Linked DNA regions of Homo sapiens: region 2 is linked to region 1. The links come from fine-mapping of genetic effects on gene expression. Tissue or cell type: whole blood. Region 1 holds a variant in brackets; the other region holds the start of a gene. All regions are shown on one strand. Distances are between the middles of the regions.

The links. PIP is the estimated chance that this variant, and not a neighbour inherited with it, causes the effect.
Region 2: MTF2 starts here. The variant in region 1 is fine-mapped to the expression of MTF2 in whole blood (INTERVAL, PIP 0.98).

Annotation. Positions count from the first base shown.
Region 1 is chr1:93,043,343-93,051,527 of GRCh38, forward strand. No RefSeq gene overlaps it. Among named protein-coding and RNA genes, the nearest start is that of MTF2, 32 kb to the right of the region's middle. The variant G/A (reference allele first, on the strand shown) is at 3,907.
Region 2 is chr1:93,076,068-93,084,252 of GRCh38, forward strand. MTF2 (metal response element binding transcription factor 2) reads left to right here and starts at 3,216. Exons shown (of 15, transcript NM_007358.4): 1 at 3,216-3,464. The coding sequence starts at 3,460. RefSeq lists enhancers at 2,779-3,028, 2,965-3,259.

The sequences.
Region 1 (8,185 bases):
TAGATGTTTATTGATGACTTAGCAAGAAATACATTACTCTCAACACTAAAAGCCTATTAACATTAAATTATAAAATTTAGTATTTCCAGAATATTTCTTGCAGACACCAATCCCATCAATGTTTCAACTCAATTTAATAGGCATCTTGTGAAGAACTGGTATAGAAAATCAGAGTTTTGCTCAATGCCTAATTATCATAAATTGAAGCATTTATTGTCTTCTATGTTCTTAGTACCATATTTAGTTATAGGACAATTCATAGTCCTATATGGTGCTATGGTATAGCAATAGGCTATACCATATAGCCTAAGTGTGTAGTAGGCTCTACCATGTAGGTTTGTGTAAGTGCACTCTATGATGTTCACACAAGGACAAAATCACCAAACAATGCTTTTTTCAGACTGTACCCTGTCGTTAAGCAACATATGACTGTGTTTTATATGGGAATATGGACACCAAAATGTTATTCTCTATGTGTATTATGAGTAATTTTTATTTTTTGTTTTATACTTTTTATATTTTTTCAGAAATAACATCAATACTTTGTAATCAGAAAAATATATTTTAGGGATAAGTATTGGCTTGTACAATTTTTTTTTTGCTTTTGTGAAAATACAGAGGAAAAACTAATGTTATATTATAACGAAAATGGTATATGTTAACAAAGGAATCCTTTTACAGAAACTCCTTAGAAATAAAAGGAAAATCAAGGCCAAAGCAAAAGTCATGTCATGACTTTAAAGAACTTTGCCCCCTAGGATACAAAATCTATTAATTTTAACGGTGGGGCTACTGTTTGTAAGAGTACCAAACATTCTGAATAGATAGAAGCCTCCAGCTGTAAACTGATGGACTTTTGTGGTCTCAAAGCAGTTGAGGGTTTCTACCCTTAAAATACCATTTCTCATGTTACAGCAATTGAGAGTGTGCAAAATGTATAGAACAGATTGTGTTTCACTCTATTTGCGTGGCTTGTTGAAGTTAGATTAATACTGTGGGAATCCTTACTCCATTCATAACTCTGAATATGTACTTATGGTATTTATATATCTAGAATTTAAGTAATCACTCTTGCCCACCATCTGTACACGGATAATTTTTACCCTGGGAGCTATTGGTTCCAATGTATTGTTTTGACATTATACGCTATAGTTGATTCAAACAGAAGTGAATACCACAACAGTTGGCACTCTAAAATAAAATCCAGACCAATAACTTTCACAATTTTGTGGAATCTAATATGCCTATTACCCACACTGAGTCCACTACAGAATTAAAGTGAAAACTTGGAAAAGTAAGAATGAGATCTATATAAAAATTATCATCCCTCACTTGACAAAAAATTCTCATTGAAATCAATTGAGACTACAGGGTTCAATCTAGGAAAGTTGTATAGACCTAGAGTTCCCCAAATTTCTCAACTATGTCTGTTGACTGATATTTATGGCTTCCCTTTTCATTTATATTCTTTTTCTTTTCAAACACAGTGTAGTATAACTTGTTTAATTTTTTTAAAGTCTGAAGACTCAAAAACAAAACTAAACAATTTGAAAGCAAAACCTTACTGGCAGTGCAGATGCAACTTACAAAATATGAGAATCAGATGTGGAGATCTTTAGGGATTATAACATTTTAGATGATGATGATGATAACAATTATTATTATTATTTGAGACAGGGTCTCACTCTGTTGCCCAGGATGGAGTGCAGTGGCGTGATCTTGGCTCACTGCAACTTCCACCTCCTGCGTTCGAGAGATTCTCCTGCCTCAGCCTCCCAAGTAGCTGGGACTACAGGCACGTGTCACCATGCCTGGCTAGTTTTTGTATAGGTTGATGCAAAAGTAACTGTGGTTTTTGCAATTTTAAAAGTTATTTAATATTTTTGGTAAAGACAAGGTTTCACCATGTTGGCCAGGCTGTTCTTGAACGCCTGACGTCAAATGATCTGCCTGCTTTGGCCACTCAAAGTGCTGGGCTTACAGGTGTGAACCACTGAGGCTGGCCCCTTTTAGAAATTTTAATAGTAGCCAAGGCATGATCGGTACCAAACTATCTAATTCCAGCTACAAAGGTTGTTTGAAAACTCATTTTTAGAAGTTTGATAGCCTGTCCATAATCATACCACTTCCCACAAGCTTGAAAAAAAGAAAAAAAAGCAGGGGATAGCACATGGATTATACAAAAGGATAAAAGGATTATTATTATGTATTTATTTATTTATTTTTGAGACAGAGTCTTGCTCTGTCACCCAGGCTAGAGTGCAGTGTCGAGACCTTGGCTCACTGCAACCTCCACCTCCCGGGTTCAAGTGATTCTCATGCCCTAGCCTCCCAAGTAGCTGGGATTACAGGTGTGCGCCATCACAACCAGCTAATTTTTGTATTTTTAGTAGAGTTGGGGTTTCACCATGTTGGCCAGGCTGGTCTTGAATTCCTGGCCTTAAGTGATCCACTGACCTCAGCTTCCCAAAGTACTGGGATTACAAGTCTAAGCCACAGTGCCTGGACAAAAGGATTATTTTAAACATAACTAATGTTGCTTATTTACAAGTTTTTATGTACTTCTAAATTTCAATATATTTAAAGTTTTCTGTTGACTAATTTAATCAAAACCTGTCTAAAGTTGAAGAGAGAAGATCCTGAGAAGTTACGTATTGATTAATTCCTAAACTTAGTTGTAATGTATATTGACCTAACTCTAACTTTATCTGAAACTAATAGGTCAACCTAATATTAGGTCAACATTATTATTATTATTTGTTTATTTATTTAATTTGTTTTGAGAAGGAGTCTCACTCTGTGGCCCAGGCTGGAGTGCAGTGGCACAATCTCGGCTCACTGCAAGCTCCGCCTCTGGGGTTCACACCATTCTCCTGCCTCAGCCTCCCAAGTAGCTGGGACTACAGGTGCCCGCCACCATGCCCGGCTAATTTTTTGTATTTTTAGTAGAGACAGGGTTTCACCGTGTTAGCCAGGGTGGTCTCAATCTTCTGTATGTCAATATTGCTAACTGAATACTAGGTCAATATTATTACATTGTTCTAATTCTGAATGTTGATGCCCATATGGTTAGCGCTAATAACCGTTGAATATGTCTGCAGTTTATCAAGGAGTTTTATCTTGTTCTAACAACAAAACAAAAGAAAAAGAAAATAGAAAACAGTGGGCATATTCAATCATCAAAGGACCCAATAACAGAGAGAAATGTAATTTACATTTCTTGAATGCCACTATACATCAGACATTATGCTAGGCATTTTACATGGATTTATTGCTTAATCTTCCCAACGATCCTATGAGTAATTATGAGTAATGTATTATTATCCTATTTTACAGATGAAGAAAATGAGACTTGAAGGCAGAAAGTGGAATGTAGATGACACTCAGCTCTTCTTTGAGATGAAAACCCAAATGCATGAGGATAAATCAGAGGAAGTTATTATAAGACAGGGAGGTTGAGAAAAATGTGTCACATGAGTTTCAGCACGAACAAAAGCAAGGTACTTTCATTTAAAATGTATTTAGAGGATAATGATAAGTCATTATTAACTACTCCTCTAAAATAATAATCCTCAATGGTTACAGCCAATATGCCAATAGAAGATTGGGCATTGCCAAAAATTAAAGGAAAATTAAATTGAAAACACTGTCCTTCCTTTCAACAAACTATGATATATCCCCATCTAAATATTCTACCCCATTCTGCTTGTTTCATCTCTAGAAATGAATAATGGAACCAGCCAGGCATGGTGGCTCACACCCGTAATCCCAGCACTTTGGGAGGCAAAAGTGAAAGGTTGGCTTGAGCCCAGGAATTTGAGACCAACCTGGGCAACATAGTGAGACCTCATCTGTACCAAAAAATATATATAAATAAATAAGTAAATTAGCTGGATGTGGTGGCAC[G/A]CACCTATGGTTCCAGCTACTCTGGAGGCTAAAGGTGAAAGCCACAGTGAGCCATGATCACGCCACTGCACTTTCAGCCTGGGTGACAGAGCAAGGCCCCATCTCAAATAATAATAATAATAATAATAATGGAACCAAGGAAGGCCCAAATGAAATTGAGCTTTTACCGAAAAGTGTCACTTGAAGTTTTTTTATGCTAAGAATAGTGTCTTTTATTCTCAGATCACTTTTCATGATATGCTCGTCTAAACCCTGGAGTATGGTGGCAAGAAAGATGAACATGCTCACTCAGACTCTTATTCAGTAATTCATATAATAAATGTTATACACTGTACAGACACTAGAAATCAAAGATGATAAAGGTAACTTTTAGACACTTCCTGTCTAGACATCCCTGCCATTTTACTCTGATTTGGGCTATAAATCTAACCTGCACCAGGCTCTACCTGCCCGCTTGGGCTTGGAGAAATGGTTCCTTATTGTTGCACTGGTTTTCTTCAGCCTCCATCCTACACAAACCCTGGCCTAGATCATTCTCCCATCGCTCAGAGGCAAGCTGGTTACAAAAGTTTTATTGCCACTATTCCTCACCCCAACTAGCCTGGTTTTATGGACAAAATGTTTGATCTATGTTGGACCCTGGGATCAAAGTCCCTATGTCAACTTCAAATCCTTGCAGAAAAGAAAGGGGCAGAACCCATCTCTGTTCATAGACCTCGATTTTTATACAGAGTAAAATATTTTCATCAGGCCTTAGTGCAGATCATAGCACACGAAGACAATAAATCTACAGTACATTTTCTAAAATATTTATTTGATAAAACATGGTCAATTTACCATTTAGAAAGAAAAAGTGCAGCTCTCTGCCAGTGCTCTCATTTAATTTTCCATAAACACCCTCTTTGAGGCTGAAGCAAATCTGATGATTTTCAATGCGAAAACAAAATATAAAAACTGTTCTTGGAGTTATTTCTAAACAGAAGTAACAACAGAATCATCTGAATTATCAGAATCATCTATTTTGGAAAAATCGGATTCATCAAATGAATCTTCAGCCAACAATTGTCCAATAACAATGTTAATTAACATCGTGCATAAGAATGCTATGTATTCTAGGATTTGACATTTTTAGCCTTTTTAGCCATAGAGAATTACTACATTTTGTAAATGGAAATGCCATTACTAAAAACAGAATGTTATAAATAGAATGATGTCTTTTTTTCTTTTAATTTTTTAAGACAGAGTCTCCCTCCGTCACCCAGGCTGGAGTGCAGGGGCGCCATCTCAGCTCACTGCAACCTTCGCCTCCTGGGTTCAAGCGATTCTCATGCCTCAGCCTCCCAAGTAGCTGGGATTACAGGCATACACCACCACGCTCAGCTAGTTTTTGTATTTTTTAGAAGAGATGAGGTTTCACCACACTGGCCAGGCTAGTCTTGAACTCCTCGCCTCAAGTGATCTGCCCACCTTGGCCTCCCAAAGTCCTGGGATTACAGGCGTGAGTCACCACTGTCAGCCTGAAAGATGTCTTTTGTTTACAGAGTTGATATACTAGAGCAGTGTGAAAATAATAATGAGGCTGGGCACGGTGACTCACGCCTGTAATCCCAGCACTTTGGGAGGCCGAGGCGGGCAGATCACGAGGTCAGAAGATCGAGACTATCCTGGCTAACACGGTGAAACCCCGTCTCTACTAAAAATACAAAAAAAATTAGCCGGGAGTGGTGGCGGTTGCCTGTAGTCCCAGCTACTCGGGAGGCTGAGGCAGGAGAATGACGTGAACCCGGGAGGTGGAGCTTGTAGTGAGCCGAGATCACGCCACTGCACTCCAGCCTGGGCGACAAGAGCGAGACTCTGTCTTAAAAAATAAAAATAAAGAAAAAATAAAGAAAGAAAGAAAGAAAGAAAATAATAATGAAAGTGAGCTATTTCATGGCAAAGTTATCTCAAGGTAAATGCTGCTGCAGCAAGCGCTGCTGGTGAGTATTCTCTGGGCAAATGGGAAAAGGGTTAATGAATATTAACTCAATTAATGTTAACAAGCTCCTAATGGGAAATATATGGATCGTTGAAATAACATTAATCTAGTAACTACAATGGAAATAAAGGTCAGAACCAGCCTGGTAGTTTCAGAAAACACAGAGGACTGGGCCCCTCTTTCCCAAGGCTGGCCCTGAACTGGGCACAGAAGATTGATAGCACAAACACCATGCCTTTTCTGATGCTGGCTTGGATGAACTCACTGAGCCAGACTCCTTGGTTTGGCCATCTTTTTATCCCTACAGTTATTATCGTCTATTTTCTGACCTGGAGTACCTCTCATATGAGCAGCTGGGTACAACTGCCCCTACTAGGGGCCTGTACTTCTGCTGAAGGCTAAAGATTTGTCACAGGTTGAGTTCTCTGGGAAGAACACCCTGAGATGGAAATTAGCATGCAGGGAGTTTATTACAAAGTCTCTTGGGATCAAAACCTGTTTGGGAAGGGAAGAAAGCAAGACTGGGCAGAAGGAGAATTTGGCTACAATGTAGTCACACAAGGCCTTAGGGACCCCCCGGGGGAGCTGTGAAGATGGAGAGTTGCCTCCAGTTGAAGTAAAGTTGATGATGCTGAGCATCTTTTGATGTGCTTTTTGTACATTTGAATCTCTTCCTTAGAGAAATGTCTATTCTGATCCTTTGTCCATTTTTAAATTGGGCAATTTGTCTTTTTTTTGAGTTGTAAGAGTTCTTTACATATTCTGGATAAAATTATTTCATTATATATGATTTGCAAATATTCTATGGTATCTTTTTACTTTCTTGATGGTGTCCTTTGTAGTACCAATTTTTTCTTTTTGATGAAGTCCAATTTATTTTCTTTGGTTGCTTGTGCTTTTGGTGTCGTATCTAAGAAATCATGGTCTAATCCAAGATCTCAGCTGTAGTTTATTCTGGGTTTTATAGTTTTAGCTCTTACATTTAAGACTGATTAATTCTGAGCTATCTTTTGTATATCATATACAAGTAAAAATTCAACATGGGCAACAACCTATACACTGTAACACTTGGCTAAATTACAAAGCAGTCGAGTGAGGTCTTCTGAAGCCTTAAAGTAAAGAAGAATGTTTTCTGTCAAAACTCCTGGTTGTGTGTATACTGCCATGAAAGGCCTGCAGTTCTTGGCAGGTTGCTACCGTACATTCAATATCCTGAATATAGTCTGCACAGACATATGTGGCCTGCATGCATCCTAACACCTTCTTGTACCTGAGGGCCTACAACACCTGCCTGGGTCAAAGATAGGCCCTTCAGGCACACGGGGTGACAGTGCCCACTCCCCAGTATTTGCACAGGCATGTGGCTGACAAGTCTGTACTCAAAGTTCTGAATATGTAAATCACTGCAGGTAACATAGAAGAAATGAAGAAATATTTTAAAGAGATTAATCAGATTTTAGGTTAAGCTGATCAAATCTATTAGAGGTAACCTTTAGAAAGTTTTCAAAGCAAGCTGGGCATGGTGGTGAATGCTTGTAGTCCCACCTACTTGGAAGGCTGAGGCAGGTGGATCCCTTGAGACTAGCCTGGGCAATATAGCAAGGCCCTTGTCTCTGGGGGAAAAAAAGAGAATATTTTCAAAGTAGAAGAGTAGAAGAAAAGAAGCATTTTAAGAGCTAAATTGATGTGTGCTCAAGAAGAAGTATCCTTGATAAAGCATCCTACCTAGACCTCAGCAGAAGAAACTACCAATTTCTGGTTGGGTGGTTGTATATAAGAGAGTTTTAGGCTGAAATAAGACTGAAATTTAAAGCTAACAAAATGTCTTAAAGATCTGGACCACAGGCATTAATCAGCTGAGGAAATAAAAGCTAAAGAATTAGTTTGTAAAGCTTAATGAATTAAATTAGGTTAAGCTAATTGAAGTTAAGTTGTTCTGCAACTATATTCCACCTACTTTTATAATGTTTGTACCCTAAGATTTCCTTTCAGGAGAACAAACTAGTTTTACTGTCTCATCAGCTAACCAAATATGCTGTGCTGAGAACTGAGAACTGAAAGGGTTTAAGCCTTAAGTAAAATGCAGGGCAAGCTGGGCACCTTTGCACACACCTATGTTCTCAGCTACTTGGGAGGCTGCAGTGCAAGATCTCTTGAGCCCAGGAGTTCAGGTCCAGCTTGGGCAAAATAGTGAGACCCTGTTTCTAAGAAAAAAAATGAATAAAATACAAAACATTTTCCTTTATTGCTTTTGTGAAAAATGGAAATTTATGTGCAAAACTCATTTATTCATTCAACAAA
Region 2 (8,185 bases), 33 kb after region 1:
ACAAAGATTTGTACACAAATGTTCATAGCAGTCTTATTTATAATAGCCCCAGATTGAAAACAACATAAATGTCCTTCAACTGGCGAATGGATAAACAAAATGTAGTACATTCATTCAAATGGAGTCTATTTGGCAATAAAAAGAAATAACTACTGACTGGTACAACGTAGATGAACCTAAAAAATATTCTGAGTGAAAGAACCCAGATGCAAAAGACTACTTATTGTATGAAACCATTTATATGAAATTGTCAGAAAGCAGATAGCAGATTGCCTAGGGCTTGGAAGGAGGGTTGACTGCAAATGCGCATAATGAATTTTTTGGGGGTGATGGAAATGTTTTAAACGTGGATTGTGGTGATGATTGCACAATTCTAGTCACTGCTTATTGTAGACATTTAGGAACTGAAAGCGACAGACATTCTATCTCAACCCAAGCTTCCATGATTACCATAGCATGGGGGAGGGAGATGTGTCTCTGCTTCTTAAAGATTCTCCTGAGAAGTGATACATGTCACCCATTTTATTGGTCAAAGCAATTAACTTCAGGGGTGCAAGAAAGTGCAAATTTTTTTTTCTTTTTTCTTCGAGACAGAGTCTCCCTCTGTCGCCTAGGCTGGAGTGCAGCGGTGCAATCTTGGCTCACTGCAATCTCGGCCTCCTGGGTTCAAGTGATTCTCTGCCTCAGCCTCCCAAATAGCTGGGATTACAGGCATGCACCACCACGCCCGGCTAATTTTTGTATTTTTAGTAGAGACAGAGTTTTGCCATGTTGGCCACGCTAGTCTGGAATTCCTGGCCTAAAGTGATCTGCCCCCCTCAGCCTCCCAAAGTGCTGGGATTACAGGCGTGGCCACCGCGCCCGGCCAGAGTGCAATTTTACTATGTGTCTGGAAGAGAGGGGAACCAGAATACTTATGAACCACCCTAAGGATGATCACAGAAATACATACAACAATAAAGGGTACAGTTTACTCTGATCAGAGTTCACTCTATATTTCCGAGGAACCACAACTACAGCAGGTTTTTTTTTTTTTTTTTTTTTTTTTTGAGGCAGTCTCACTGTGGCTCAAGTAAGCCTACCACCTCAGCCTCCTGAATAGCTGGGACTACAGGCAGGGGCCCAGCTAATTTTTAAATTTTTTGTAGAGACAGGGTCTCACTATGTGGCTCAGACTGCATACTGGTCTGGAACTCCCCAGCTCAAGTGATCCTTCTACCTTGGCCTTTCAAAGTACTGGGATTACAGGAGTGAGTTGCTGGTGGCTGGCTGACAGGTATTCTTTATACTTGACTGTGACTCCCTGAGTGTCCTTAAATCTCTGAACACTTGGTTTGCTTACACCTTTGTACTCACACGTTTGCACAGAAAAATAACACTTTTTTTTGATAGAGGCATAATTTACTTCTCTAATGTATAAGGGATTAGAATACTTTTGTGTAGCCAAAGAGCCTAAATTATTAGAGTTTCTGAGGTGGAAATGAATGCGTCTGAAGTATTGAATCACTGAAGATTTTGAAGTTGAGGCTTGGTGACCACTTTACAGAAATGTTGAGGAAAACTTAGACCAAACGTTCTCCAAAACAGATGTTCTCTGATTAGGCTTAGCTGCACAGCAAATATATCTGTTTGTGCAATATCTTTATTAATTTTTGTACTGCATCTACTTTTTAATATTTTATTTATTTATTTACCTTAATGCCACGTTCCTGAATGGGAATGCATCTACTTTTTTTTTTTTTTTTTTGAGATGGAGTTTTTGCTCTTGTTGCCTAGGCTGGAGTGCAATGGCACGATCTTGGCTCACCACAACCTCTGCCTCCTGGGTTCAAGCGATTCTCCTGTCTCAGCCTCCCGAGTAGCTGGGATTACAGGCATGTGCCACCACACCTGGCTAATTTTTGTATTTTTAGTAGAGACGGGGTTTCTCCAAGTTGATCAGGTTGGTCTCGAATTCCCGACCTCAGGTGATCTGCCTGTCTCGGCCTCCCAAAGTGCTGGAATTACAGGTGTGAGCCACCGCGCCCGGCTGCATCTGCTTTTTTTAAGTCAAAATTTTCCTCAGCCAACGTATGAAGGTCACTTAAGACGAATTTATGAGAGACGATGATGAGAATTGAAATAAAGTGAAACCTGAAAGGTAGTAGGTAAGTAGATACAGTGAGGGTACAGTAAGAAGACAGACTTAAAAGATTAGGACTATTATTCAGGAGAAGCAGAGGAGTGGAAGGGTATGACCACAATATTTAAAGTATTGAATGGTATTGGATAAAACGAATATGCTTATTTGCCAAATTCTGAGATCACAGGCTGAGGGAACCCCTTTTGAAGTATGAGCCAAATGAGCTTAGACCACAAAAGGTACTTTTTCAGAGACAGAAAAAATATGGTGTTCACTATCCCTGTGGCATAATATGGGACAAAAATATAAAATGGCTTTAAAAATATTTTGACGAAATTATAAATAAAGATTCCACACGTGGCTACTAAGAGGAGCTGGGTTGTATCTAGGTGTAAGTTAAAGAGACAAGCATACAATCTCACAGCTTGTCAGTTGGGACCCCTGTAGGCAGCAGAATCTGGGCAGGCTAAGGGTCTGCACTAATAAACAATTCTGTTTTCTTAAACCATTTTGCAGGGGACTATTCTCAGATTTCATTACAACTAGGAAGGACTGCAAAGCGGGTAAACAGAAAACAACCTTTCATCGTTAGGAAAAAAATCGTCTGAAAGTCTTTCATAAAAGCAGCTCCTGATAAGGAGTTTGGGACTGGACAGTGAATCGCTGAATAAAATTTAATCTCGACATCCTGGGTCTTCTCCCCTCTGAAGGAAATTCTAACAGCAGGCCTTAGGATGAAAGTAGAGGAAACGTGCTTCAGTTAAGGTTTTCTCCAGGGAAAAGAAATCGGCCCAGCAAGATGCACAGAGCACCGTTACGACCACGCACACCGAAGGTCGCACACGACCCTTTTCCTGTATAACAGTGCCAGCCTGCCGACGATCAGGAGCGCAGCTTTCACTATTGTGTTAGCCCCGGCGGCGGAAGGACTGAGCCTCACTGCAACGTTAAAGAGTCCTTCTTTGTTCAGCCCCAGTCGGGGACGCAGGGCGCGGTGTTCCTCCGCGCTCGCCGCGCAGTCCCTGCCCCCCCGCGGCTTTGGAGAGCTGCCATTCGGCACCGGAGTCGCTCCGCGCTCCCAGAATGCACCGGCAGTCCGCGGGAAACCAAAATGGCGAGGGGCTGTATTGAAGTGGGCTGTGTTTGAGGCCGGTGTAAGAACGCTCATTCTACCCCCAACCCTTGTCTCCAAGGACCTCGGTTTGTGCGTGCATATGTGCCGGGTACCCGGTGGGGCGGGTGCCCAGTAAGTGCTCGGACTCGCAGGGGAAGCGCCCACGGGGACGGATTGGTTGTTTTTTCCTGTATGAAGCGGTTGGCACCACTGAAGTGACCGAATGAGGTGAGAGACCTTGGCCTGGGAACCGACTCTTCCGGAGGAGATGGGGGTTGGGGGAAGGAGGAAGAAAGGAAGCAAGTATAAAAGGGAAAGATGGAGGACCAAGGTGGGGGTGGGGGCTCCTGTATGTGGGTGCCTTTGCATTTATGTGTATATTGAAAAGAATGGATGAAGAGGAGTAGTCAGTTGAGTGTTGGGAGAAAATAGGGACTAAAGGAGCGAGGAGGTCGTTGGGGGAGTCTGTTGGAGGAACAAGATGAAACGTTGAGACGGGGAAGCTGTGTTTGGAGGGCAGGAAGGAACCTGGGGGCGGGAGACGGTTGGAGGGGCAGGATGAACCTGGTGACGAGGGGGTGGGGAGCCGAGAGGAGGAGCCGTTGGGAAATGGGGGCTGAGGGAAATGTGGGGAGCAGAGTGGAGGGCTGCCTGGGACCTTAGCAGTGCGCAAAGGGAAGTAGCAGCTTGGAATCGGAGGGTGGAATTGTATGGAATTGGAGTAAAGGGGGTCGAGTGTAAGTGCTGGTAAGGATAAGGGGAACACACTGAAGTGGAGGTTGGAAGCACAACCTGAAAGCTTAAAGGGAAGCGGTGGGAGGGAAAGTGAGATGGGGGAAAGCTAGGTAGCTTATATTTGGAGCTCACCAAAAATATGAGGCTTTTCTTGTGTTTAATTAAACCTAACTCATATAATCTACGTCTAGGATGTAGATTTGTATTGTATTCATTTTTACAACTGAGGTAATTACGGCTCAAGGAATTTTAACCAATTTGCCAAGATTTCTTAACATATTTCGGTAGTGCCAGAACTCTAACTCTGTGTTTTACAATCTGGTGTCCTTGGTTGCTAGAATTTTTCTTTGGAAGCAATTAGAGGGAACAGATGGATTTATCGGGGTAATCTGACTAACAGCAAGGGTTTGTGAACAATGGGAAAAGGCTTATGGAATGTTACTCTATTCTTTAAAACATTTAACTTTGGTTAAAGATAGAAACCATGTAACACTAACTTAAATGTGAAAACCTAGCTAGGCCTGTGTGTAATACATAGGAAGGCACCATGTGAGGTCAGTACAGAGCTAGAAATATGTAAATAGTACCTGATTTAATTTGACTTCAGAACCTCCGGTAGTAATAGTAGTTACTTTCTCCTTCAGATGGATTCCATGTGACCCTCCTGTATACCTAGCCTACAAGCTGGTTTCAATTTCCATGGTTTCATTCTCTCTTGGGAATTCCTTTTTTTTTTTTTTTTGTCAGTAAATTTCAAAGATAGTTGTATGTAGAAGTAGTTAATGTGGATAAAATGTAATTAAATTCACAATAACCTTTTTAAGATTTGAAAATGCTTTAAAGGGAGTTGTTTTGACTGATGGCTTTAAGTGCCCTATAGTTTAGTTATAACTTGAGAGGGAATACAAAATGACTTGTTTTTTCAGATTCCTAAATATAAAAATGTATTTGAATTCACATTTTAAAATTAGTTCACCTGCAGTTTTTTAAAGTGCTAAAAATGTTCTAAATATTTGAATTAAGAACACACCTGCTTCCTGATACTACATTTATAATGTTAGTGGGTATTAACGGAAATGTGTAACTATCAGGATGAAATGCATACACAGTTTTAGAACTAGTTGTACAGAAATCATCTTGTTAAGCCTTTTTTCTAGATGACACAATTATATTTAATAGTTCTTTAAATCATCCCCGTTGCCTCAAAGCTCTGTTAGGAAAGACATTCTGTGTATTTTACTGTGGGTCATTAACTCTTTGATTTCATGGATTATAAATATTCCTTTTTGTGGGATCTTTGAAGGATAATTTGCTTTAATCATTTTTCAGCATAATCTTTACATCTGACTTGAGGAAACTGACAGTATATTGTTAATCTATATTTTAACAGAGAAATTTGCCTCTGAGGAGTTGCCATGACCAACATCTGTAGCTTGATGGTTCTGAAAGTAAAACTTAACTGCTGTTTTAGTTAGTCGACACTTCCATGAACGATCTTTGATGGTTAATATTTTTGTACTTTGTTTTCCCTGTTCTTCAGGAAAATTTGTTTATTGCTGTGAAATCCAGTATAACCATCCTAAATTGGAATGTAAAAGTTTCCCTGTGGATATTTCTTATATGTTAGAGTAGTGCTATCTAGTAGAAATTTCTCCAGTGATGGCAGTGTTCTATATCTGCTGTATCCAGTACAGTAGCCACTAGCTGCATGTGGGTATTGAACTCTAGAAATGTAACTAGTGAGACTAAGAAGTGAATTTATAATTTAATTCATTAAAACTAAAATTTAAATGGCCATATGTAGCAGTGCTACTGTATTGGACAGCACAGTAGTAGGGGTTATTGCATCCATGTATTGAGGAATTGTTACATTCATTAACCATGGAAACCACAGGAATCCAAGGATGAGGAAATGCCTGAGAACTGAGGAAGTTCAGATTCTTTTTGTACATTTAAGATGAAGTATTCATTTTTACCACATACCATGTCTTCTGTCATATTTCTGTTTTCATATAACATTGCAATAGAATAATGAAAGATAGTGACCTCTCTAGTCTTTTTAAAATATAAGATTCTGCTTCTGTGTCAAAAAACAACAAAAAATGGATATTAGGAACGTTTTGTTGTTTAAAAAAATTACTTTGTTTTTACACTTTGGTAGAAAAAACTTAAGGAATATTTCAAACATAATACAAAGTGAGCAGAATAGAATAGTGAGCTTTTATGTAACCATTCTTTTTTTTTTTTTTTTCTGTAAAAAGAGACAAGGTCTTGCTCTGTCACCCAGGCTGGAGTGAAGTGGTGCTATCATAACTTGCTGCTGCCTCAGACTCTTGGGCGGAAGTGATCCTCCTGCCTTAGCCTGCCGAGTAGTTAGGACTACAGGTGCACACCACCACACCTGGCTAATTTTTAAATTTTTAATTTTTTTTGTGGAGACGGGATCTTACTGTGTTGCCCAGGCTGGTCATGAACTTTTGGCCTCAAGCAGTCCTCCTGCTGTGGCCTCCTAAAGTGTTGGGATTGAGCCACTGTGCCCAGCCCATTGTTTTTATTATTTTTTAAAGGTTTATTTTTAGGTGAAGTTTACATATATTGAAATGCACAAATCTTAACTGTACAGTTGTTAATAAGTTTTATTGAGATATAATTTATATACTATAGTTATATGTACATAATTCACATGCATTCTTTGAAGGTGTACAGTTCAGTGATTTTTTTTAGTATACTCACAAAGTTGTGCAGCCATCACCATACCTAATTTCAGAATATTTTCATCATCCCAAAAAGAAAAGAAAATCTTAATCCATTAACAGTCAGTCCCCTTCACCTATCCACTATCCTCTGGCAACCACTAATCTACCTTCTGTGTCTATAAATTTGCCTGTTCTGGACATTTCATGTAAATGGAGTAGTACAATATGTGGCCTTTTATGTCTGGCTTCCTTCACTTAGCATGACTATATTAGTCCATTCTTGTACTGCTATGAAGAAATAACTGAGACTGGGTAATTTATAAAGAAAATAATTTTGATCGGCTTACGGTTCCACAGGCCATACAGGAAGCATGGCTGGGGAGGCCTCAGGAAACTTCCTGTTGAAGTGGCCCCCTTGAAGTGGCCACAGCAGGAGGATTAGAGATGGGGGCGGCTCCACATGCTTTTAAACAACCAGAGAACTCAGTATCATGAGAACAGCAGGGGGGAAAATCTGCCTGCATGATCTAGTCATTTCCCACCAGGGGCCTCCTCCAATGTTGGGGGTTACAATTTGACGGAATATTTGGGCGGGCACACAAAATCCAAACTATATCGTTAATGTTTTCATGGAACAGCCATGTTGTAGCATTTATAGTCACTTCATATCTTTTTAGGGTCAAATAATATTTCATTATATGAATATACCTTTTTTTGTTTGTCTAGTCATCAGTTGATGGACATTTGGGTTGTTCCCACATTTTGACTATTGTAAGTAATGCTGCAGTGATCATTCATGTATAGGGTTTGGGTGAACATGTTTTCATTTCTCTTGGGTACACATATCTAGGAGTGAAATTACTGGGTCAGATGATAACTCGGATTAGTGTTTTGAGGAACTGCCAAACTGTTTTTCAAAGAGGCTGTGCCATTCTACAAGCTCACTAGCGATTATCTGGTGAGTGATTATCTCACCAGTTTATCCACATCCTCACTGATACTTATTATTGTCTATCTTTTGATTATAACCATCCTAGGGTTTGAATTGGTATTTCATTGTGGTTTTGATTTGCATTTCACTTATGGCTAATTATATTGAGGATCTTTCCACATACTTGTTGGCCATTTGTATACCTTCTTTGGAGAACTGTCTATTTAAGTCTTTTGCTCATTTAAAAAATGGGACTGTCTTTTTATTCTTGGATACAAGCCTGTTATCAGATATGATTTGCAGACTTTTCTTCCCCCATCCTGTGCATTATCTTTTCACTTTCCTGATGGTGTCCTTTTAAGCACAAATATTCTTAATTTTGATAAAGTTCAATTTATTCCTTTTTTTTTTGCTTATGCTTTTGATGCCGTATCTAAAGAGCTTTATAGTTTTAGCTTTTACATTTAGGTCCGTCATCTATTTTGAGTCAATTTTTTATATATGGTGTGAGGTAGGGGTCCAACTTCAGTGTTTTGCATGTGGATACCAGTTTTCTAGTACCATTTGTTAAAAAAAACTAATTCTTT